Regions from separate parts of the Homo sapiens genome. Here region 1 is linked to region 2. Evidence: fine-mapped expression QTL. A gene starts in region 2. The other region holds a variant in brackets. All regions are shown on one strand. Distances are from middle to middle.

What was found.
Region 1: its variant is fine-mapped to the expression of POLK in vagina (GTEx, PIP 0.93).

What each region holds. Positions count from the first base shown.
Region 1 is chr5:76,295,736-76,308,230 of GRCh38, forward strand. It overlaps SV2C (synaptic vesicle glycoprotein 2C), which reads left to right. Exons shown (of 13, transcript NM_014979.4): 9 at 43-207; 10 at 3,059-3,192; 11 at 4,994-5,197; 12 at 5,651-5,810. It overlaps SV2C-AS2 (SV2C antisense RNA 2), which reads right to left. Exons shown (of 4, transcript XR_001742750.2): 2 at 2,368-2,450; 3 at 25-109. Among named protein-coding and RNA genes, the nearest start is that of SV2C-AS2, 9.6 kb to the right of the region's middle. RefSeq lists enhancers at 1-479, 459-1,341. The variant A/G (reference allele first, on the strand shown) is at 5,934.
Region 2 is chr5:75,505,348-75,517,842 of GRCh38, forward strand. POLK (DNA polymerase kappa) reads left to right here and starts at 6,544. Exons shown (of 15, transcript NM_016218.6): 1 at 6,544-6,567. CERT1 (ceramide transporter 1) reads right to left here and starts at 6,282. Exons shown (of 17, transcript NM_001379029.1): 1 at 5,765-6,282; 2 at 635-769. The coding sequence starts at 5,860. RefSeq lists enhancers at 5,639-5,708, 6,459-6,838.

The DNA of each region.
Region 1 (12,495 bases), 790 kb after region 2:
ATGCTAGTGCCTTTACAAACTCACATTTCTTTGTCTTTGCAGGTACTATGGATTATCCGTTTGGTTCCCTGATGTCATTAAACCTCTGCAGTCCGATGAATATGCATTGCTAACCAGAAATGTGGAGAGAGATAAATATGCAAATTTCACTATTAACTTTACAATGGAAAATCAGATTCATACTGGAATGGAATACGACAATGGCAGGTCTAGAAACTTGAAATAATTTAATTTGCTACCTATTCACAAAAACTTATTTCTTCTTAGCTTTCCCTGCACTGAAACAGGCATAGTTTTTTGTTTGTTTGTTTTAGTTTGTACATTTAGTCATTTTCATGATGAATTTCAATACTTCTTAATAGGCTTTAAATAAAAGGTACAAATGTATCCATTACTTCACTTAAAACTATTTTTGCAGCTAAGTTGCTTCATATTTATTAGGTAGTGGACTTGACTGGTGTGGAAGGAAAATTTAGAGCAATGTTGGAGAGCAACAAAAATAATGGAAGGAAGAGAAGAGTGAAGAGTATGGGAAAATAAGACAGGCTATAGGATTATTTAATTCACAGAAGAAATCTGAAATGTGATTATATGAGTCTTCTATTCCTGAGAAACAGAGCCACTTTTCAGAATTCATCCTTCCCAATACGCTGAATCCAGAATTGAGGTTAAATTGCATCAGGAAGAGTTTCAATTAGAGAACAGGAATCATTCCCCAAAGTAAAGGGCTTTGAAAGACGGAAGGGTCTCCTTTATGGGATCTGAAATACTTCTTGATGACAAGAGAGAACTGACTCAGGGAGGTGGTCCTGGGTCATTCTTTTAGAGATGGAAAAGAGTAGACCAAGTACTTGTTTATATCCAAGTATTTTTGTTGCCTGAACAAATAATTGCCAGTGTAAGTTCATGATAGTTTACATCATTCTTAGGAAGTTGTCCCAATTTCAAAAGTGATAAAATAAAACTCTAAAATAATCAAAGTTCCCCAGGGCAAAAACCAGTTCAGAAAGATGAAAAAGAATTCAGTGGGATGCTTATGATCTATGTAATGGAAAAGAGGGTTACTAACTAGGAGGTAATTGTTCAAATTAGCAATTCAATGAAGGAACTAATCATCATCCAAGCCAAGTGGGATCACCTTCACTCTCCCACATAAAATACTGACTTGAATCTGCACTTAGCATTTCACAGAAAGCTTAGTGTCAAGTCCTCTGTGATGCCAGGGTGAAAACTGACTTTCAAAAGTATTGTTACTCCATTAGAAATTTCTAATATATGTTTGTGTCTCTGACAGTCATATTTTTAGTAATATATGTTAAAGTTCTAAACTGGATACTCAGTCACTGCTTAGAACTTTTTTACATTAGCAATATAATGATTACTAATTTTAATAGTATTACAGTTTTTGTAAAACATATGTTACACATTTATTTTAAAAGATGATAGAAACAATTTTTTTGTCCTTCAGGAAAATTTGAAATACCATTAACGAAATTTTTTAAAAAATAGCTTTTTTATTCAGCATCATAAAATGGCAACTCTTTATATACTGATACGGAATAACCTCCAAGGTAGACTAGAAGGAGATAAAGCAGGTGTACTTTAGACACAGAATGCTCCTGGAGGAGCACACAAGAAACTGACAACAATGGTTATTCTGGGCAGAGGAACTTGTGGCCTGGGGATGGATGGGAAAAGACTGACTTTTTCCATTTTCAACCTTTCGAATTGTGCACCATGTGTACTCTCTGAATTATCCATTCAAAAAATAAAACTGATTCATTCCCTTTTCCAAATTCAGTTCCATGACAGAAAAAATTGATAACTTTTTAAAGATGTGCCATTATTTAGTCTCTTTTGGTGCATTTAGATGTTTTTACTCTGGGTCCCTGGAGTGGGGATTGAAACGAGATCATTATTATTATTTCCAGGTAATGTACCATGGGAATGATTTCTTTTTTAAGCTGATTGGTCTGTGAGGCCATGTGCATTTTGAACCAACACACGTAATTGGGTATTAGGGAGAGAATAAATTTGAAAGTACTCAATAGTTAGTAAACTGCTTTTAAATCAACCTACTTACCTAGAAGGATCAGTCCCTTTCTGCCCCTAATAAGAGTGGTATTGACATAACAACTCCTTCCCGAGGAGAACAAGCATTTTCCTCTCAGTGACTGGCTAAGTGTACATTCATAGTCTCTTAATAAAGTACCAGGACACGTTAATGAATATTTATCTGTGTCTGCTGGGAGTCCTTATCAATGCTGATAAGGCCTGGATCATGGACTCTTCTAAGATGTTATTATCATTATGACTGTTACCATTTTTACCACGTAGAATTCCCCCTTATAATACCCAAAAATATACCTGAACAGGTTTCATCATTCTTCATGTTTCCAAAAATAAGCAGAGTTCTCATAATTCCTTTTGGTTCAAGGACTATCTGTTGGCTGTGAGAAGAAAAATTATCCTGGAAATGAGCGTCACCTATGAGTTTCTTCAACCCCAAGTCAGTTATTCCTCACATAAATGAAACAGAATTCTCATGCTCTCTCTTCAGGATAATTACAGGTCCCTACACTAGAATGAAGAAGACTTGGATTTTCAGCTAGGGAAAAATAAAGTTATTAAAAGATCGGGTAGGAGGACATCCTTAAGTTAGAGCCATTAACCCCAAATAGAGAATATTCAAATAAAGATATACATGAAGAGACGATAGGATTAAAACCTAAAGAATAGCCCCAGGTAATCCCCAAACTATCTTCAGTTGCATACCCCACAAAACTTTTTACCAACATTACAAAAAGCTAAGGGAAGTTAGGAGTGTCATCTCTTTTCCTGGTGAAAAATAATATTGGTAAGCAATAAGATAGCCAAAGGTCAGCCTGGATGAGAAAAAGGGGAAAAAGCAGAGAGCTAAGAAAATCAAGAACTCTGTGTTCTTTATAATTAAGACAGTCCATAGTGGGGCATTCCATCTCTAAAACTATTTGACTTAGCTTTGAACTTTGATGGACACAGTCATTGATTGATATGAATTTTTCTGTGTGTTGGGCAGATTCATAGGGGTCAAGTTCAAATCTGTAACTTTCAAAGACTCTGTTTTTAAGTCCTGCACCTTTGAGGATGTAACTTCAGTGAACACCTACTTCAAGAACTGCACATTTATTGACACTGTTTTTGACAACACAGGTAGGTGTGCTACTTAGTACTGCCTCTACCTGAGGCCTCTCCAAAGGGCCCACTGTGATAACCATGTGATAATGTGGGCAGAGGCTTATGCGGGAAGTGGATATTAAAGAATAAATGGAACAAGTTCTCTAAATCAGGTTGGATCAAAGGTTGGCTTGTATTGTTTGTCTTTGTCAGATTTAGTGCAAATGGAGCTTGCCAAAGTTCAAAAGTTGGCAACAACAACAACAAAAAAATCCTTTGATGAATAAATTTTTAAAGCAAAGACCTAACCTGTAGTTTATTTGTTTTGATAATCCTGGGTTCAAAATCTGGTGTTTGTTTAAATGCCTCAACTCTATAGCCAACAGAGATAGACAACATGTGGCTATGCTCAGATACATATATATTTTGGCCAAATCCATATAATGGGGTATTTTAAACTCCCCAGGGGGAAAAAAAAGGAAGGCAAACAAGCATTGATTGAACACCTATATACTGTTTTCTACTCTAGGTCATTAGACATTCATTATCTCATTTAGTTTTCACAGTAGCTGAGGCTTAGGAAAGTTAAGTAATTTGTCCACAATTATAGAACTAGTAATAACAGATGTTTGAACCCAGATTTATTTGATTTCAAAGCCTGTGCCTTCCACTTTCCCACTCCCAAACATTGGTCTGTGTGTCCTATAAAATGAATCCAGCATAACAGCGTGGCATTGGCAGGAGCATCAGCATTTGCCCTGTTGCCAGACCTGCCTTCTTAGTGCTCAGACAAGGGCTCTGCCTAGCTCCAAAGAAGAATGAGGTCAGGTGTCTTTCTGTTTTTTGTTTTTTGAGCAATGCTATCTACCTGTCTTCTAACCCATTAAACCTCAGAAGACGAACATTTTGTCAGATCTTGATCAGCAAGGAAGATAGTTTCAATTCTCACAGCCTTTTAGCAGAAACCACCACCATCTGCAACTCTTCTTGGATGGTTTCAAATTCAAGAAAAGATTAGCAATGAATGCTGGTGACCTTCAGATGAGGCTGACTCTTGTTCCTCAGTAGATTCATGCACATAGACTTTAAATTATAAATTCAGCCTCAGGAAAGACTTGTTCCTTCTCTGTGCCCTCTAGTCTCATAAAATGGCAATGATAAGGCTGACTCTTGCACTTTTTTTTCCTTAGAGACAGGGTCTTGCTCTGTCATCCAGGCTGGAGTACAGTGGCGCAATCACAGCTCACTGCGGCCTCAAATAAAAAATTATTATTATTATTATTATTATTATTATTATTATTTTTGTAGAGATGGTGTCTCACTATGTTGTCCAAGCTAGTCTTGAACTCCTGGCTCAAGCAATCCTCCTGCCTCATCCTCCCAAAGCACTGGGATTACAGGCATGAGGCACCACACCCAGCCCATGCACATTTTGAAACAAATTGTTTTTATAATTGTAGTATGGACACTATTAGTACTATAATGATAGTCTTTATGTAACATGATAATTAGGACATAGTAATATTGTAAAGGAGTAAGCAAGTAATATAATTAGCAATGGCCGACCATAGGAAATCAGAAGATAACTGGACCCCTTAATTTAATGTATTCCTTTATTCAGCAAAGGTATCTCATCATTCACCTACTTTATGATGTGAAGACCCAGACTAGATCCTATGCTTTGGCCAGAAGACCCAAAAAGTCAAGCTAGCATAGGCCTGAAAGCCCTCAAGGAATTTACAATACTGGTTTCCTCTCCGAATCCTCCATAGGCTTTCTTATACTGGTGCATGCCTGGTAAGAGCTTGATGAATTGTCTTTGTTGTTGTTTCTACAGATTTTGAGCCATATAAATTCATTGACAGTGAATTTAAAAACTGCTCGTTTTTTCACAACAAGACGGGATGTCAGATTACCTTTGATGATGACTATAGTGCCTACTGGATTTATTTTGTCAACTTTCTGGGGACATTGGCAGTATTGCCAGGGAACATTGTGTCTGCTCTGCTGATGGACAGAATTGGGCGCTTAACAATGCTAGGTATGTACTCAGTTTCATGTCAAATAAAAGAGCTGCCCCTGCAATCCAGAGGGACCCTGTTTCCCCCTGTACTCCCATCTATTAGGGATTTGCATCCAATAAGGAGAAATCCTTTAGACCTTACGTTGGGACTAAATTATAGTGAAAATTATGTCTAATTACATTTCATTTGAGTGGTTTCCATGAGTTAACAGACTGAAAAACTATGTGTAAAATGTATATTTTCCCACTCAAGTAGCTGAGTAAAAGATGATATGCATTTCATACTTTCTGTGTTCAGAGGCAGTTAGAGCCTTTCATTCAGGTGAATGCACCAGTTCTTGAGCTTTATGGAGCCCATCCTGCAGCTTCCACTTAGAATTCAGTTTTCTTGAGCAATCCCAAGGACCCAAGGGTTCTTGCTTTACTAAGATGACAGGAAACATTCCAGCCTTTTGTCTGCATTGTTGGCAGGTGGCTCTATGGTGCTTTCGGGGATCAGCTGTTTCTTCCTTTGGTTCGGCACCAGTGAATCCATGATGATAGGCATGCTGTGTCTGTACAATGGATTGACCATCTCAGCCTGGAACTCTCTTGACGTGGTCACTGTGGAACTGTACCCCACAGACCGGAGGTATGTTGAAATGGGCCTCTAGTAAGAGGCACTCTAAGCCCTGTGAGACCACTGAAAAATTATTTTAAAACAACCCAAACTGGCTGGGCACGGTAGCTTATGCCTGTAATCCCAGTACTTTGG[A/G]AGGCCAAGGTGGGTGGATCACCTGTGGTCAGGAGTTCGAGACCAGCCTGGCCAATATGGTGAAACCTCGTCTCTACTTAAAATACAAAAATTAGCCGGGTGTGGTGCCAGGTGCCTGTAATCCCAGTTACTCAGGAGGCTGAGGCAGGAGAATCACTTGAACCCAGGAGGCAGAGGTTGTGGTGAGCCAAGATCACACCACTGCACTCCAGCCTGGGCAACAGAGTGAGACACCATCTCAAAAAAAAAAAAAAAAAAAAAAGCCAAACTGTCACTTCCCCAGGAAAGTAAAAATCCAAAAATATCTGGCTTCACAAAGTTGTAGGTTCCACTCATATCTTTTAAAAAGAAAATATAGGGGAACATATGTGCTAGAAGGAATTAATAGGGCAATGAAGCCAGTGAAGGAATTTAAGTGTGTCCTTAACTTAGTTTGTAGGCTAACAATATGAGGAAGCTGTAATGAAGCAGTGAGGATTAGAGTTTAATAGCCTATCTTAGCCCACATTTTAAGTGGCTAACCAGTCCTTAGAGGGTCGTTTCCTTAGGTTTGCAGATGTGTCTGCATGAGCTCTGCATTAAGCAACCACAAAGAGGTATCTAGAACATATCTCTTGACCTTCCTGGTTTGTTGGAGGAAAGCCAAACACATTTCTAGTTATAAAAAACAATTGTGCTGGGCCTAGTGGGACATGCCTGTAATCCCAGCAATTTGGGAGGCCGAGGCGGGCAGATCACCTGAGGTCAGGAGTTTGAGACCAGCCTGGCCAACATGGTGAAACCCCGTCTCTACTAAAAATACAAAAAAAAACCTAGCCAGGCATGGCGGCGGGTGCCTGTAATCCCAGCTACTCAGGAGGCTAAGGCACGAGAATGGCTTGAACCTGGGAGGCGGAGGTTGCAGTTAGCCAAGATCATGCCACTGCACTCCAGTCTGGACAACAAGAGTGAGACTCCATCTCAAAAAAAAAAAAAAAAAAAAAAAATTGCTCCCAATATGGAAACACAGAGACTCATATCAGAGAAAGGGCTAGGGCTTTTGGGTATAGCTTCAGCAGCTTGAATAGCTAAATTAAAATAAAAGAAGCTCTGCTTTACCATTTGATATGAGCTAAGACAAATGGACTTTGCCTTCATGTACCACTCCTGTGCTATGTTGCCATAGAAGTCCTCTGTGCCAGAGGGTGGAGTCAGTATTATCTGGACTTTGAAATGTAGGAGAGTTTTTTCCTAGAACTATGCCAAAACATTTGGGATATCAATTTGCAACTGATCTTGAGTGCTTCCTCTGGGCTCATTCCCTTTTTTTATTGACCCCAAAGAGGTGTATTCTGTGTGTGTCCTGTCCTGTCTCTAACTTATATTTCTTCTTCAACAACATCTATTACTGAGCTTGCAGAACCCTGTAGGTACCCCTCCATCCATCTCCCTGCAGAACATCTAACACTCAACCCTGGATGTCTGCTTATCAAATATTCTAGTTCAGACCCTCAGTGACCCACCTATTAAATATTTAGGCTCTGAAAGGAACCATACAATCTTTGTACGGCATCTCCTTCATTCATTCAACAAATGTTAATTCTCTGTCTTTGTGAACGAGGTCCTGCCAGAGTTGGTGCGGCCAAAAGCAAGATTAAGACTCTGCAGCTTCATTGAGCTTTCTTTCATCAACCTCTCATTCTGCAAACAGAGCTTAGATGTGGATTACACTATACGTTTAAAATGAACCCCTCAATTGCTTGAGCCCATTGTGCCACTGCACTCCAGCCTGAGCAGCAGAGAGAACCTGTCTCAAAAAATAAATAATAAAATAAAATAACCTCCTCAATGTTAAAGCAAGGCTAGGTCATAGCCTCCTTCCTTTTTCTTGTATACTATAAGAGTGTGATACTGTTTTAGGAGAATCAGCTGCTTATCCCTCTGCCATAAGGAATAGAAGGATGAGTATTCACCTAGGACAAAAATCTGGCTTAAAAAAAAAAGACCCTCATAAATTGAAATTGGTCAGGTCCTTCCTGTGAGAAGTACAGACCTACGGTGTTTCTGTTGTCAGAAAGGTTAAATATCAATTGAAATAAAAACAAATGTTGCTTATTTGTATTAATTCAGGTCCTCCATGAAGCAGATGTCAGGATGGGATTAAACATGCAAAAATGTTATTAGAGGAAATGACTGTGAGAGAAGATGGAGAGGGAGTGAAGTATGGGAGAGCTGCAATGCAACTCTAAGCCTGAGCGAAGGAGGGAGGAAGGAGTATTTGGGTGGAATCTCCCAGACTATCCAGTAATCTAAGGAAGGTTTGGCAAGGCTGTTGGAGACCCAGGGATCATGACAACATCAGCCTCAGAGGAGTCCTGTGTGACTCAGGAAGCAGCCTGCAGTAATAGTCCTGTCAGGTCCAGTCATTGTCTGGGAGCAGCATGTGGGAAAACACCTCTGTGCACACCAGCACGATAACACAAAGGTCTGCCAGGTGCATTCTCACCGCGGTCACGCTGTTGCTGGCAGACGCTCTCCAGCACTTAAGTAGATGTCATCAGATAATCACAGGAAGTCATTTCCTTTGGTGATCTAGAAGATGACTTGTGCTCCAGAGCAGCGTGACCATGGCCATGGTAAATTCGCTAGTATGAGCTAATTAGTGAGTATCTGAAAATATTTCAGGCTAAAACCTCTTCCACCATTTCCATGTTTCTCTGGGTTGCATTAGGAGGTCTCCACTGATCTCTAACTCAGCTATTAGAGGAAAATCCCAACCAGTTGAGACACTCTATAGCTTCATCTCCCCATGGAGGCAGGATAGAATACAAGAATACAGGAATAGAACACAAAAATTCTGGCTAGAGGCTTTACTTCATTCTCTTGTGTTGCTCTAACAAAGTACCTGAGACTAAGTAATTTATAAAGAAGAGAAATTCATTTTCTCACAGTTCTGGAGGCTGGCAAGTTCAAGATCAAGGCAGGTTTGGTGTCTTGGGTGAGAGCTACTGTCTGCTTCCAGATGTTGCTGAGTCCTTCAGAGGAGACGAACACTGTGTCCTCACATGGTGGAAGGCAGAAGGGCAGGAAGGGCCAAACACTGTGTGAAGCCTCTTTTATGAGGGCCTTAATCCCATTCACCAGGGAGAAGCCCTCATGACCTAATCATCTCCTAAAGGCCCCCCTCTCTTAATACTGGGATTTGTATTGGTTTGTTCTTGCATTCCTATAAAGAAATACCTGAGACTGGGTAATTTATAAGAAAAGAGGTTTAATTGGCTCATGGTTCTGCAGACTATACAGGAAGCATAGGAAGCATAGTGGCATCTGCTTCTGGGGAGGCCTCAGGAAGCTTCCAATCATGGCAGAAGGTAAAGGGGGAGCAGGCACATCACATGTAAAGAGCAGGAGCAAGAGAGCTCAAGGGGAGGTGCCACACACTTTCAAACAACCATAGCTCACAGGAACTCACTCACCATTGCGAGGACAGTACCAAGGGCACAGTGCTAAACCATTCATGAGAAATCTGCCCCCATAATTCAATCATCTCCCACCAGGCCCCATCTCTGACACTGGGGATTACATTCTAACATGAGATTTGGGTGGGGCACACATCCAATCTCTATTAGGATTACATTTGCATTTACTGTGAAAACACTAATGAGGACGTTGTTCATTATAGGACACATCTTCTTCTACTCAGAGTCTACCATGAAGACTGAACATCTCAGGGGTGGGTTCTAGGAATCATTTTGTATTCCTCCACCCATGCTTTGAGAAGCTGTTATGTGTCCTCACTTCATATGATAAAAATTGTGTAATTCTTCACATTTCCTTCTCTGTTGTGCAATCAGGAAGCAGAGAGCCTGTGTCTCTGCTAAATCTGCATAGTCCAGATACTTGTTTCACTCTTCCTTATCTTGATTTGCCCCCTCTTATGCCCATTTTATTAATTTTGTGTCTTTTATAAGTTATCCTACCTAGATCGTTTGATAAAGAGGCAGGAAATTTTGGAATTAAATCTAGATGTACTTACTGAATAGCACTTTTCTGTGCCAAAAAAAATGAAACAACCATTTTTCCATTCTGTAAATGCCATCAACATCCTCCTTTCTTCAAAACCTCAGTATCAAAAATGAGCATAACAATTGCAGTCTTAAACAGATGCATGGTGACATTCTAGCTTTTTCCCCAGATTAGAGAGCACTTACACACTGACTGGGACATGATGATTTAAGGGACACAAAAAGAGGTGGGAGGGGACTGAACATTCCAACCCTCTGGACATATGGTTGGTTTTTCTGGAGACCAGCCCAATCCAGAAGCTATCTAGGATCCCCTCAGCCAAGAGTCATCTCATTAGCCTACAAAAGACACTCTTTTGGTGGAGCAGGGGGAAGGATGGGGTCTCCCTCTGTTGCCCAGAGCTACAATCTGTAACCAGAGCTGGAATGCAGTGATTCAATCATAGCTCACTACAGCCTCAAACTCCTGCGCTCAAGTGATCCTCCCCCATCAGCTTACAAAGTAGCTGGAACTACAGATGTGTATCACCATGCCAGGCTAATTTATTTTATTTTTTTTTATTTTAAGAGATGGGGTCTCACTGTGTTGCCCAGGCTGGTCTCAAACTCCTGGCCTCAAGCAATTCTTCTGCCCCAGCCTCTGAAGTAGCTGGTATTATAGGTATGACCCATTGTGCCAGGCTCCAAAAGATACTCTTATCCAAGGGTTTTAGGAGCTCAATGCCGGGAACTGGGGATGAAGACCAAATACTTATTCTTTACTTATACCTTATATTTAAGGCTGGAGATTATTACTAAAGTGCAATTTATTATCCAGAGGATTTAGCTATGCAAAAGGTGGGAAACTGTACCCCTGGACAGCAAATCAAAAACAAATCTACATTCCCTAAAACCTTAGCTGCTAGTTATAAGCATGACCTCAAAACCAGAAACCATCAGGGAGAAGGTTAAAAGAATTCTCTGGGTAAAACAAAATGTGAATTCCACACAGCAAAAAATACCATAGGCACATATAAATGATAAATTGAGGGCAGGAGGGGGTTGAAACAGAAATGAATTAATAACCTGAATATATAAATTGGAAATTCATAAAGAAATGTCAACAAACACTTAGCATATAAAAATGCTCAGCTTCACTAATAGTAAAAATTAATTACAAATTAAAGCAATTATGACATTTAGCTTTCTCCTATTATTCAGAGAAGACAATATTTAAAAGATAGATAAGATCCAGTGTTCTCTGGGGCAAGTGAGGGGTTACTGCTGAGTCTGTTGTGGGAATTCTGAAAACAGATACCACATTTGTAGAGGGGGATGATCTACAGTCTTAAGTATTTTTTCCCAATAGGAATAAACTATTGATTCCTCTGGTTGCTTTTCAGGTTTTTTCTTTGCCTGCCATGGATTTCTTTGGGTTTACTATGTTTGGGGTTTGCTCAGCTTCTTGAATCTGTAGGTTTACAGCTTTTGCCAAATTTATGAGGTTTTCAGCCATTATTTATTTTGTCAAAAAACAAAATTACAACAAATTTAGTGTAAAGAGCTAGTTGACTTTTATCTGCTATTCTAGAAGCAGGCAACACCTCACTCTATAAAATGGGGTGAGTGCTCTAATGAGCTGAGCAGAGAAAGTTGGCTTCATAGGCAGAAAAGCTCTAAAGAGAGCAGATACAGAGAACAAAAAGCAGATAGCCCTTTCAAAGTCCCTTTCTGTAAAGGGCTAAAACAGAGGGGACTTCCTTATTATGCTCATTTGGGTTGGCCGGAATCACCTGTTTTTTGGAAAACTGGCTCTTTTCAAAGTTCAATTTGATTAGGTGGCACTTAGCCTGAGTGACTCCATTCTGCTTAGGACTGGTCTGCTGTGGCCTAGGTGCAGGAGACTAGCCCAAAACAATGGCCTCCCGTAAAATTTAACTATTTGAATACTTTTTCAGTGCTGCCCTTTTTCTCTTCTGCCTGAACTCCAGCAACATAAATATTAGATCTTTTGTTATAGTTCCGCAGGTCCCTGATTTAGTTTGTTTTCTCTGTTCTTCACTTTAGATAGTTTCCATTGTTCTGTCTTCCAGTTCACTGGTTCTTTCCTCTGTCTCCTCCATTCTGCTGTTGAGCCCAACCACTAAGCTTTTTATTTTGGTTATCATATTTTTCAGTTCTAAAATTTTCATTTAGTTCTTCTTTATTTCTTCTACTTCTTTGCTAGGGCTTTCTATTTTTTCCATTTTTGCCGTGATGCTTTCTAAATTTCATGTGTTTCAAGTGTGTTCATAGTTGCTCATTGAAGCCTTATTATGGCTGCTTTAAAATATTCATCAGATAATTCTAACATCTCTGTCATATCAGTGTTGCCATCTATTGATTGTCTTTTTTCATTCTGTTTGAAATCTTCCTGTTTATTTGTATGACAAACAGTTTCTGATTGGAAGCAGTCATTTACATATTATGTTATGAGAATTTGGATCTTATTTAAGCCTTTTGCTTGAATTGGCTTTCTGTGACTCCTCTCTGGCAAGCGAAAGGGAGGCATTGCCTTATTATTACCAGGTGGACGTAGA
Region 2 (12,495 bases):
TGACTCAACGAAGGTGAGTTATTCTTTTAAAGGGTGTTGAATTGGAGAAAAGTGATGTAACTGCAAAATATAAGGGGAAATCATAAAAAGTTAGAAGGAGCCTATACTTAGAGTTTTTCAAAAGTTATCTTCAGGCTTTTATTCCACATTAGAGAAATCAAAACTGTAAATAGCAAATCATGTGTGAGGAACATGAGAACAGCTTCTCCCAACTCCACAAAGAGATGGCATTAGCTCAATGTTAAAAAGTTTAAAAATGAATTTACATTTATATTTTTAAGTTAAAATTTTAGAATGTTACTTACAAGATGTATTATTTTTAAATATTCAGTAACCTACAAAGTAACTGTCCCAGCCTCAACAAATAAAAAGGCTTCAAACATTTTTTTTTCCTGAAGCCCTTAAACTGGTTTGATATACCCACCAGATAAAAACTACATGTCTATGCAAAATAACAATATGTAGTAAAAACCACAGTAAAATCACTTTATGGAAAAAAGTATTAGAATGTATATTCTACAAGGACAAGGATCTTTATCTTATCCACGGATGTATCCTGAACACGTAGAACAGTTCCTGGTATGTAGCTGACACTCAATAAATATTTGTTGAATGAAGAAGAAAAGGAACTTACTGTGATGACAGCCTTGCTAAGACAGATGGATCCTCTGCAGCCATACTCTGTTTCATCTTCAGATTTGTAGTAACTCAGAGCATTATTTTTCAAAACTACCCAACGATCCTGCCACCCATGAATGTAGTTTGTCCACTGGGAGTGGGAAGGGGAAGGGAAGAGAGAAGAAAACAAAAAATAGAAGTATTTTAGAAATCCAAACTTTGTGAAACAGCAATCTAATTTTAAAACCAAAACGTGAAAAGTCCAACTTAATTCTAAGCATAAACAGTAAAATGATTACAAAAAGTGAAAAGTTGAGATTTTCTAGATTGCATAATGATTTTCAGTAATTTTTACAATATTATAAATAAATCTGTAAGAAATAAAATATAACATTTTCTTCTAACATTTGAAGAATAAAACGAAAGCCAGATTTTGGTTAAAATTATTGTTTATTCTTCGTATGCTTTCATCCTCTCCTAAGTACCTTCATGATATTTGTTTTGGTCCTTGTCATAATTAACATATTCAACAGAGAAGTATGTTCAGTTATGTATGTAGTCTCTCATTCTGACACCAAAGACTGCATGAAGCCTTCTAAATCAACGGAAGTATAAAGTCAATTATTGCTAAACTCTACTTTTGTTGTTATTCCTATATGAAAATTTATAACAGCTGTAACTATATCAAAATAAAAATAATAATCTTTAGTAAGCTGGCATCAACTTTAACTTTTCCTCTACAGAACTGAATAATATTAAAAATGGCCAATACATTTTCCAAGTTCCTCTGAACATGCATTTTTCAAACTCAAGAGTAATAAAACAAAAATAAAATTGCTTTTCAAAAACATATTGGATTGTCTTCAATACCTTAAGAGTTTCTGTGTTGCTAAAGTCTTGCTGCAAAGTGAAGATCACAATAAACTGGAAAAGGCAGAAATGTAACCTTTACAGGAATACTTATTTTTGCATGTTTTTATCTATGCTCTGGGGTGTTAAGTATAGAAAAATCTCAAAAACTATCTGCCAATTCCAAAAACTAATTAAAAATGGATTGCCAAAATATACTGCATTGGCTCAGGCTCTATATCCACTGAGAAATCTTTTATTTTTCTGTTCTCTAATTAAGCATTTTTGAGATTGATTCACTTCTTAAATTTTCTTTTATTTAGTATTTTCTTGAGACAGGGTCTCGCTCTGTCACCCAGGATGGAGTGCAGTGGCACCATCTCAGTTTACCGCAATCTCCTGGGCTCAATCCTCCCACCTCAGCCTCCCAAGTGATTGAGACTACAGGTGTGCACCCCCACATCTGGCTAATTTTTTGTAGAAATGAGGTTTCGCTATGGTGCCAAGGCTCGTCTCAAACTCCTGGGCTCAAGCGATCTGTCTTCCTTGGTCTCCCAAAGTGCTGGGACTACAGGTGAGCCACCATCCCTAGCCAGTTCTTAATTTTTCTAAGCCCCATCATTACAACCACTCTCTGAGAACTCACCCAAGCCAACATTTAACTCATTCTAGTGGCTCCCAATCACCATTTCCTTATTTCTAACTGCTTGAGATGTACCACCACTTAGACACGGGCTTGAAATAAATGATAGTTACCAATAAAACTGAATTCACCTTCCTATAAAGTATACTTCCTTCCTATTTTCCTACTTCCTTGGGGAGACTGCTACTTCTGCTCAGAGTTAGTGTATTAGATATACAAACAGATTAGTGGATATAGGATAAAATAGGCTCAACTATTTTATAACTCATGTGAAGAGAGTTTTGACAAGTTACTTTTGTAAACTTCAGTTTCTTTGCCTGTTGACTGACGGCCGAATAAAATAATGAAAATGCCTAGCATAGTCACAGAAGATACTCAATACCTAAGTGTTCCTTCTCAATATTTATAGCCCATTACCAAAAGCTGCTCATCTTTCCTTCATAGTAAACCCTTAAATTTGCCTCCTCTTCTCATTTTCAACTATTCCAATCAAATTATCCAGTTCCTGTATTCCTTAGGAGACTTAATAATTTTTTCTCTAGTATCTTCTGTTTTTTTCATAATTTACACAAGCTTATTTACTTACTAAGCATATTTGCCTACTTTTCTTACATTGATCGTATTGAGTCTCTAGCTCCAAAACTTACATGGACAACTTCCCACTGACTGTCATACAAATTGTTTAGGGCATTCAAGACCCTTCATGGATTAATCCTACCTCATTTACAATTACCACACTTCATAAGGCTAAACTTTGTGACAGTGGTCAAGTTACTTATTCTCTTTGTGTTCTTTTTTTCTTTGTCAAATTCTCTTAGAGTTAAGTTTAAACAAGAATAGACTTAGAACAGTGCCTGGACATAGTATTTTCTGAATCTGAGGAAGAGTTATACATAGCTAATGAAGCTTAACCTTCAGCATTTCTCACTAGAATAGAACTCTTTCAATGTTAGAGGAGAAGCCCCAGCAATTATGTATCCATAACTTAATATTAGTTCTTATAAGAGACTGAACAAACTGTATCAGCTTCAGGACCCTTTACTCAGTAAGTATTAGCTGTATCATGACACCTGGAAGACAAGTTTTTTGTCTTTTCTCTGCTCTCATAATGTTCCCTCACTCTTCCCCATTTAACAAATACAGATAAGGCAATATGCTAGACACTGCAGGGGAATCAAATATTACTGTGGCCAACAGGCCAGCAGACACAAACTCAAGAGAAAAAAATATATATTTAGAATAAGAGTCAGAAGCAAGCTACAAACAAAATGCTATGGGAATTCAAGTGAAGGAGGTCTTGAATGATGGCAAAATAAGAAAAGGCTTTATGGAAAGGACAGTATTTGGCTTGGACTCTTAAGGATGGACAGAATTTCAAACAGTTTGGTGTGTGGAAAAACAGAAGGTAAACCATGAAGGATGGAGGAAATTCAGAAATTGAATGAGATTATTTTATCCAGGCTTAGGTGCTCTCAAGTCCTACTAAGGCATGCATCTTTTCCCCACCATGATCCATCACGATACTTGCTATAACTAGATAGAATTATTGTCTATCTAGTATTTTTGGAATCTATACACTTAAGTGATTTATAAGAAATATGCTTCATAGGTATTTCCATGTATTTCAGATTACCATATGGAAAATACCCTTTGAACTGGTATATTTCTAATATAAATTTACCCAAGCCCATTCCAAATCCACCCCATTTTGGGGGAGAAACAAAATGAATTGTACCGGGACTTATTTACATTACTCAATGGAAGGAAAAGAACAAAATCCGAGTTCTGACCTTTGTTTAAATTACCAGGTGAATACAAAGAATTCAAACTATATAATTTACATTTAAAAACATCTACCATACTCAGTATGAGTATATATACTCAATTTAGAATACCCTTGATTAAAAAGCTTCCAGAAAACTGTATATAACCATAAATTGGTAAATCTCAGGAAAATTTCCTTCATAGCTTTGAGCAAGAATACCAAAAGCTTTATTCCTATTCATTCTACATATGCAGCAACAGTCAAAATTTAAGCTATTCACCTTCCATAGAGGTGATCAAATACATTTGTATGCATTTAAATATCGAGATTGGTCTTCCATTTTTTTATCTATAGTATACCTACTCCAGAGCACTGGTTACTTTTTCCCCCGGTCACTCCACTCCCCCAACCCCCAAAAAAGTAATTATCAGTAGGTCAAAAGTACAATTTGTTTCGTAAAATACTTAACACATCACAATACTAATATGGCAGTCAGCTTCCCATCTTATGAGCAGTGATGAAACTACCAAAATCACTGAGAAGCAAGTAACCCACTTCCTATTACCAACTGAAAATGTATACCTACTACACAATGTGTTCAATAGAGATTCCTAAATTACAGGATACATTTAATCTAAAGAAATCCTGAGGAGCTTCTCGTTACTGAAAACCTTGCACTGAAATTTCAAGAATGATCACAGCATCAATATACAACATAATTTTGCTGCTATACAAATAAAAGTCAACACTTGCAATCCTTAGTTCTGACTACTCATGCCTTTCCTGGCCCCCTTCTCATTAGCTTTCTAGACATTATAAAAGCCTAATATGAAACAATTCCACAAATAATGTCCAAGTGATTTGCCAAATATGAATACTGGAAACAGGGTGATTTCTTAATAGCCACTGGCTGCACATGACATAGTATCTTATGACCAGCTTGTTGAGGGACTGGCCCAGCTCCCCCTCTCCAAGTTAACTGCTAGCTCCAGCCATGTCTAAAAAAGTTTAACAGGAAGGGAGAGAGAAGTCAAAAAGGCTACGTGAATCTTCTTACAGCAAAAACTTAAAAAAAAAATCCCCACAACTATGTAATATCAAGAGATCATCCACCTGCAGTCCTATAATGACTGCTTTGCTAAAATTTTGATACAGGGATTTTAAAAAATATATAAAAGATAAAACATCTTTTCCTTACCCTCGACCCCTTACCGCAAAAATATTTTATTATTAAGTAATGCTCTTCCTGGACTAAAGATCAGTCTCCATTCTCACATGTTCCAAGTTACTATGAATATTTCCTGTACCCATCATGTGCCGATTCAATATCTCTATTCTGAACTAAGGTACAGGGTGAGGGAGAAAGTCCTCCACATTCATCTGTCTCACTACATCTAACCTAGCAGAATTCAACACCTCAAATTTCAACACCAAGCTGAGTCGCTCCAGCTTCTGTCGAAAGAGTTGCGTCCGCAGTGCCCCCCAACCTACTCGGCTTGGCATCCTCAGAGAGACCAACCTCTTTTAAGAGGTCCGACTTGAACCGCTCCCATGCCCAGTCGTTCGGACACCGCTGAAGCCCAACCCGGATTCCTTACACCCGGGACAGCTGCCGCCCTAAGTCCCAAGTCACGGCGCGCATCTGGCCTCCCAAACTGGATCTCAGGTTTATACACCCTTTCCCTGGTCCTCGGCTGCCCCCGACGAGCCCCCGGGCAACAAGGACAGTGCCCCTATATCCCCGCCTCATCCCTAGTCGCTGCAGCAACACTCAGCCTCGCACCCCGGCACGTTCCGCGCCTCCCGCCAGCCCCACCCCACCGCCTCAGCGGATTGCCTCGCTGCAGGTGAGTCTGGCCAGGGGTCCCTTGGCACCAGGGGTTGCTCACCTTACTGAGGACCCCGCAGCGCTCCACAGGCGGCCCAGACTCCGTCTCTGGATCCTCCTCCGAGCCCGACGAGTTCCAGCTCTGATTATCCGACATGGAGGCTCGACAACCGAGCAGGAGACCGGCCCCCGCTCCCTCAGCTGCGCCGGAGGAGGCGCCCAGTCCTCGGGGTGAAGGGTCGGGGGATGGCGAAGCGAAGAGTGCCCGCTCCGGTGTGGGGGGGAGCAGGAGGAGGGACGAAGTCCGCCCGCCGCGCCGCCGCCGCGCCTGACACCGAGCGGAGCGAGGAAGGAGGACGAGCGGTGAAGGAAGCCTACCCTTCCAGCCGTCAGCCGCCGCCGCCGTCGCCGTGACCCCTGCGTTGCGCCCGGCGCTGCCACCCGAACTTAGCCCCCTCGATGCCAATTTCAAATAGGGAAGGAAAAGGGAAAAGAAGGGAAGAGAAAATCCGGCCGCTGAGTCCCGCGTCCACTCACACCTCCGCTACCGCCGCCATCTTCCTGCCTGGCCCACTATTTACCCTCCCCTCCCCTGTCCTTTCCCCTCCCCTTCGTCCTCCCATTCTCCCCCACTACTCCCCGCCCCGTCCCCCTCCCGGCGTCTGACGCGACACGCCGAGCCTTCGGGATCCTCCTCCCGAACCCTACCTCCGGCTCTCCCGGGTGACGACGGGTAGAAAAGCAGGAGGAGCGGAGAAAGGAGAGGGCGGGGTAGGGATGCAGCTGTGCTGCATTCTGGGAAGGGCGTTGGTCCGTCGCTCGCGCAGCCTCCTGGGAGTTGTAGTCGCGATCCTGAGGTAACGGGTGAGTATCCCGCGCGGGGATCGCTTGTCCCCTTGGGGCCTTGTCAGTCGGTGGGTGGGCTTCGTTTGACAGTTGCGTGACCAGCCCCTCGGCCTCGCTTCTATCCTTGCCTTGTGTGTTTATGACGAACCCTCCGGGCTTGCGGGCCCAGACGTGAGAGAGCTTTCCGCTGAAGATGACGGGCCTGCTTTCCAGGGCGGCTTGTCGAAAGCCCGGGAGCATCTGGCCGCTTCCGCCTCAACCATGGGCTGGGGTTTTGTGAGCTACTAGTGCCAAGGGTTTTCTTTCCACCAGACCACCGCTGTAAATCTCGAGGGTCTTACTCATTAGAAGTTAGAATTCACATTTGACGTTTAAAGGAAGAATTTCCTTAGTACCTTCTCACAAGCACGCACTTCGCATTTTTAGATTTCTAGAGTTTGCTTTGTAGAAAGTAATTTTGAGGTTGTCAGAGAATAAATGACGTTAGAAAGGTTTTTAAAGTAAAACAAGAATGTGAGATGATAGCCTGGGATTTTCTCTTGGTTGTAAATGAATATCTTACTGAGAACCACGTTAACCATGCCTGCCCCTCAAAGATAGGAAAGGTTGGATATATAGAAACTTTCTCGTATTAGAAATACCGAAGTGCAGTGGTTTTGTGTGTACAAGGGATTAGGCAATAGGAGGCTATTTTTGTTTTAAGACTAGGGTTGAATTAGCAGAAAGACCAATAGAAGATCTAACAACTCTTGTCAGTTGTCAAGGATAACTTTGATTATGAGACTTTGACTTTGTAGCTTCAGTAATTTCCTCTCGTTAGCTATTTTAATATAGTCGATTTCCTTGTAATTGCCAAGAGTAAAATTTGTTATTAAACCTTAGAAAGAGTACTTTCTTACTACAAGGATGGGACGATAGGAGCGAAATTTCGAGTCTAAGGGAAAACGCTGGCCGAGTGTGGTGGCTCACGCCTGTAATCCCAGCACTTCGGGAGGCCGAGGTGGGTGGATCACCTGAGGCCGGGAGTTTGAGACCAGCCTGGGCAACAAGGTAAAACCCCGTCTCTACTAAAAATACAAAGATTAGCCGAGCATGGTGGTAGGTGCCTGTAACTCCAGCTCTTTATATCCTGGTTTCAAATCTAGGCTTGATGACCTTCTCCCATATCCCAGTATCATATTTTTTTCTTCCTGCATGGGGGATTAATTACGATTCTGAATGGTTGGTAGCATGAAGCTAGGTTATCCCTATCGTGGCAATGGATATTTAAGTAGGCATTGCCAATATTTATCTTGCTTTCTTTTACTTTCTTCTTTTTCTGACCATCCACACTCCATTTATATTGATGAGTTCTTTTACTAATATCAATTATTATTATATTATGCTCATACTGCCATGTCTTATTCTGCAGCTTTGATCCTTAAGGTGACTTTGCATATCTGTCTAGGACTCCTTTATCTGTTGATTTTTACCATTTAAGTCTCCAAAGACAGCTGTATTTTTGGAAAAGTGGGAGGGAAGAGGTAGATGGGGATACTCATTGATACCTTAATGCACTTCACAGCTGCTTGAGAATATGTCAGATCTCATAAAAAGTTCTAACATTCGAGAATAAGACAGTGATTTCAGAAATGGAATTTCAAAGGGTGTGTAGGCCACCCTTTTTATCCTGTTTCCTATTGTAGAAATGAGAGCCAGGCTAGGAATGTTTCAAGCAGAAATATTCTTACTATTCAATGAAATTGAAAATGTATTCCCATATCTTTTACTCCTATCTGTTTGGTTTATGGGATAAAAACTTGTTAGAGTAGTTGGTATTTCATAGGCTTCACTATAACATTGGAAAATCTTTTAGTCTAAAAAGCACACAGTACGGTACACCAATGAACAGTATTAGTGCCCACTCTTGGCATGTACACATGTTCTTTCTGTCGTTTTTATTTTGCTTAGCTTTTGAGTCTCTTCCTGTTACTGTGAGAAATTCTTTTATTAATATTTTAAAGGCATACTATATAAAGCAGTGTGGTGGTATATTAGGTATCAGTAGAATCCTCTTGATAGTTATTTAGTAAACGTGTTTTGCTTCCTGTTTTTTTCTAACCTTTTTATTGTTTCACTTCTACTATAATTTCACATCCTTTTCTTCTTAGTCAAATAAGTTGAAAAAATATATTTTTATAGAACATGTTGCTATGGTGATAGTTTATGAAAATATACTTTATCCCTGTTTAAGATCTTTATTAAGATCTTGCTATATGATAATCTGACTGGGGTGCTATAAAAGTAAGATATAAACCACTTCTTCTGTAGATTCATTGTTTTCTAGCATTTTTCTGTCTAGGTATTCTGACAATAATTATGTGTAGAGAGTGAATAAATATTTAAAATTGTGTGTGACATAGGAGGTTTTCAGTAAATAATAACTGATGAATGAAATAAGTTTAACTTGGTTGATGATTGAAGAGAAGTTGTGGGAACTGCAATTAACAAGGCCCAAGAAAAAAATCACTAACATGATTAAAATTGGTCAGACACCAAAGAACCAAATAACATCATAGCCTTTTGTAAGTAGCAATTATCATTTGCCAAAGGCCTACAAAATGTCAAACATTGTTTTAGGTTCATTTGATTTATTCGCTCTTCACAAAAATCCTGCAAGGTAGACATTATTCTTACTTTACATATGAGGAAATTAACATTCAAAGAAGTTAATTGCCCAGATCATCGCTAGTGAATAGTCTAGTCCAGACTTTGGACCTTAGGCGCTTGCAATACATAACTTTTAATACATATAGAATTGATTTTAGATTTTAGAAAAGTCACTCAGGCATAATGGCACATATCTGTAGTCCTAGCTGCTCAGGGTGCTGAGGTGGCAGGCTAGCTTGACCCCAGAGGTTTGAGGCTGTAGTGAGCTGTGATCATGCCAGTGCACTCCAGTGTAGGTGACAAAGTGAGACCCTGTCTCAAAAAAAAAAAAATTCCAAAAAACTATTATCCCAAATTTTTTAAATGATTAAACATTTGAGAATCTGTCAGAGCCAGATAGATTACATTCTAGGTGTGTTACATAGTTTTTCTTTAGTTTAACAGTTTTCTTAAAAGAAAATTCATCCACATGCATTTTTAAGGTGCAGTAACATATAGCCAGTTTACAGCTCTTTTCTTGCTAGTGTACACTAGCAAATATATGTTCCAATTACGCATAAATAATTTAAATGATCTCTGGAGCCTCTTGCAACTATCCCCTTGTCTTGTGTTGCTACTAAAAGGAAAAACGTATTGATTTAACCTTTGGTATTATCAGGAAAAATAGTCATTGTCATTTACTATCATTTTATTTTTTGTATTTTTGGTCATTTTATGAATAGTCCTGAGAAGCAGCAATAAAGGGATAGTGGAAAAACAACTTTATTAGAAATTATAATAAAAATAAAAACATAGCAAACCCAAATTTTTATTCCATATATTCTTGAAATAGGGAGGCCTCAAGCAATCCTCCTGCCTTGGCCTCCCAAAGTGTTGAGATTTGATGTGAGCCAACATGCCAGGCCCAATATTCTTTTTTTATGGCTAAATTCCATTGTGTATATAGACCACATCTTCTTTATCCATTCATCCATTGATGGTTGATTCCATATTTTAGCTATTGTGAATAGTGCTGTAATAAACGTGTGAGTGCAGATATCTCTTCAATGTATTGATTTCCCTTTTGGATATATACGTAGTAGTAGAATTGCTAGATCATACAGTAGTTGTATTTTAAGTTTTCTGAGGAACCTCCATACTGTATTCCATAGTGACTGTACTAATTTACATTCCCACCAACAGTGTAGCAGGGTTCCCCTTTCTCCACATCCTTGCCACCATCCATTATTCTCTATCTTTTTAATAAAAGCCATTTTAGGCCGCCCATGGTGACTGAGGTGAGAGGATCACTTGAGCTGCTCAGGAGTTTAAAACTAGCGTGGGCAACGTAGTGAGACCTCGTCTCTAGTATAATAAAAAAAATTTTTTTTAAGCCATTTTGACTGGGGTAAGATGATAGCTCATTGTGGTTTTGATTTGCATTTCTATGATGATTAGTGATGTTGAACATTTTTTTAATTTACCTGTTGGCCATTAGTATGCCTTATTTTGAGAAATGTCTATTCTTTTGCCCATTTTTAAATAAGATTATTTTTCTTTTATTGAGTTGTTTGAGCTCCTTATATATTCTGGTTACTAATCCCTTGTCAGATGGATAGTTTGCAGACATTTTCTCCTGTTCTGTGGGTTGTCCCTTCACTTTGTTGATTGTTCACTCAGCTGTGAAGAAGCTTTTTAGCTTGATATAATCTAATTTGTCTACGTTTGCTTTGGTTGTCAGTGCTTTTGTGGTCTTACACAGAAAAGTTTTTGGCCAGGCCAAGAGTTGTGCCTCATGCCTATAATCCCAGCACTTTGGGAGGCTGAGGCAGAGGATTGCTTGACCCCAGGAGTTTCAGACCAGTCTGGGCAACATAGGGAGACCCTACTTTTGCAAAAAGAATTTTAAAAGTTTAAAAATTAAAATAAAATTAAAGAAAAAAGTTTAAAACATTAAAAGTTTAAAAATAAAGTTAAATGAATAAATAAAATTAGCTGGATGTGGTAGCACACACCTGTGATCCCAGCTACTCAGGAGCCTGAGGTGGGAGGATTGCTTGAGCTCAGGAGGTCAAGGGTATAGAAAGCTGTGATTACACCACTGCATTCAAAGCCAGGTAACAGAGTGAGACCCTGTCTCCAAAAACAAAAAAACAAAATAAAACAACTTTTGGCCAGGCCAATGTCCTGGAGTATTTCCCAAATACATTTTTCTAGTAGTTTCATAATTTCAGATCTTACATTTAAGTTTCTAATCCATTTTGATTTGATTTTTGTATCAAAAATCAAAGAGATAAGGAAGAAATATCTGAGAGATAGTCTTATTCTTCTGCATGTGGTTATCCAGTTTTCCCAGCACCATTTATTGAAGAGACTATCCTTTTACCATGATGTGTTCTTGATTGCTTTGTCAAAAATTACTTGGTTGTAAATGTGTGGATTTATATCTGGGTTCTCTATTCTGTTCCATTTGTCCATGTGTCTATTTTCTTGCCAGTATTATGGTCATTTGGTTACTATAGCTTTGTAGTATATTTTGAAGTCAGATAGTGTGATGCCCCAAGCTTTGTTCTTTTCCCCTAGGACTGCTTTGGCTATTCAGAGTCTTTTTGTGGTTCTATATACGTTTTAGGATTCTTTTTCTATTTCTGTGAAGAATGTCACTGGTATTTTGATAGAGATTGCATTGAATCTGAAAATTGTTTTGGGTAGTATTGTCGTTTTAACAATATTCTTCTAATTCCACAAGCTTAGAATATCTTTCCTTTTATTTGTGTCTTCAATTTTCTTCATCAGTGTTTTATAGTTTTCTTTTACAGATCTTTCACTTAAGATAATTGCTTCGTATTTTATATTATTTGTAACTATTGTAAATGTTATGCTCTAACAGCAAACAACATGAAAAATAAATCAAGAAAGCAATCTAAATAAAAAAAAGTCTGTACTGACTTTTGTATGTTAATTTTGTATCCTGACACTTTACTGAATTTGTTTATCAGTTCTTAACAGCTTTTGGTGGAGTCTTTAGGGGTTTTGTAAATATAAGATTATGTTGCCTACAAAGATAACTTGACTCCTTCCTTTGCAATTTAGATGCCCTTTATTTCTTTCTCTTGTCTGATTGCTGTGACCAGGGCTTTCAGTATTATATTAGATAACAGTGGTGAAGGTGGGCATCCTTGTCTTGTTCCAGATCTTAGAGGAAAGGCTTTCAATATTTCACCATTCAGTGTGATGTTAGCTGTGGTTTTATCACATGTGGCCTTTATTATTTGGGAACATGTTCCTGCTGTATCCAGTTTGCTGAGGGTTTTTATC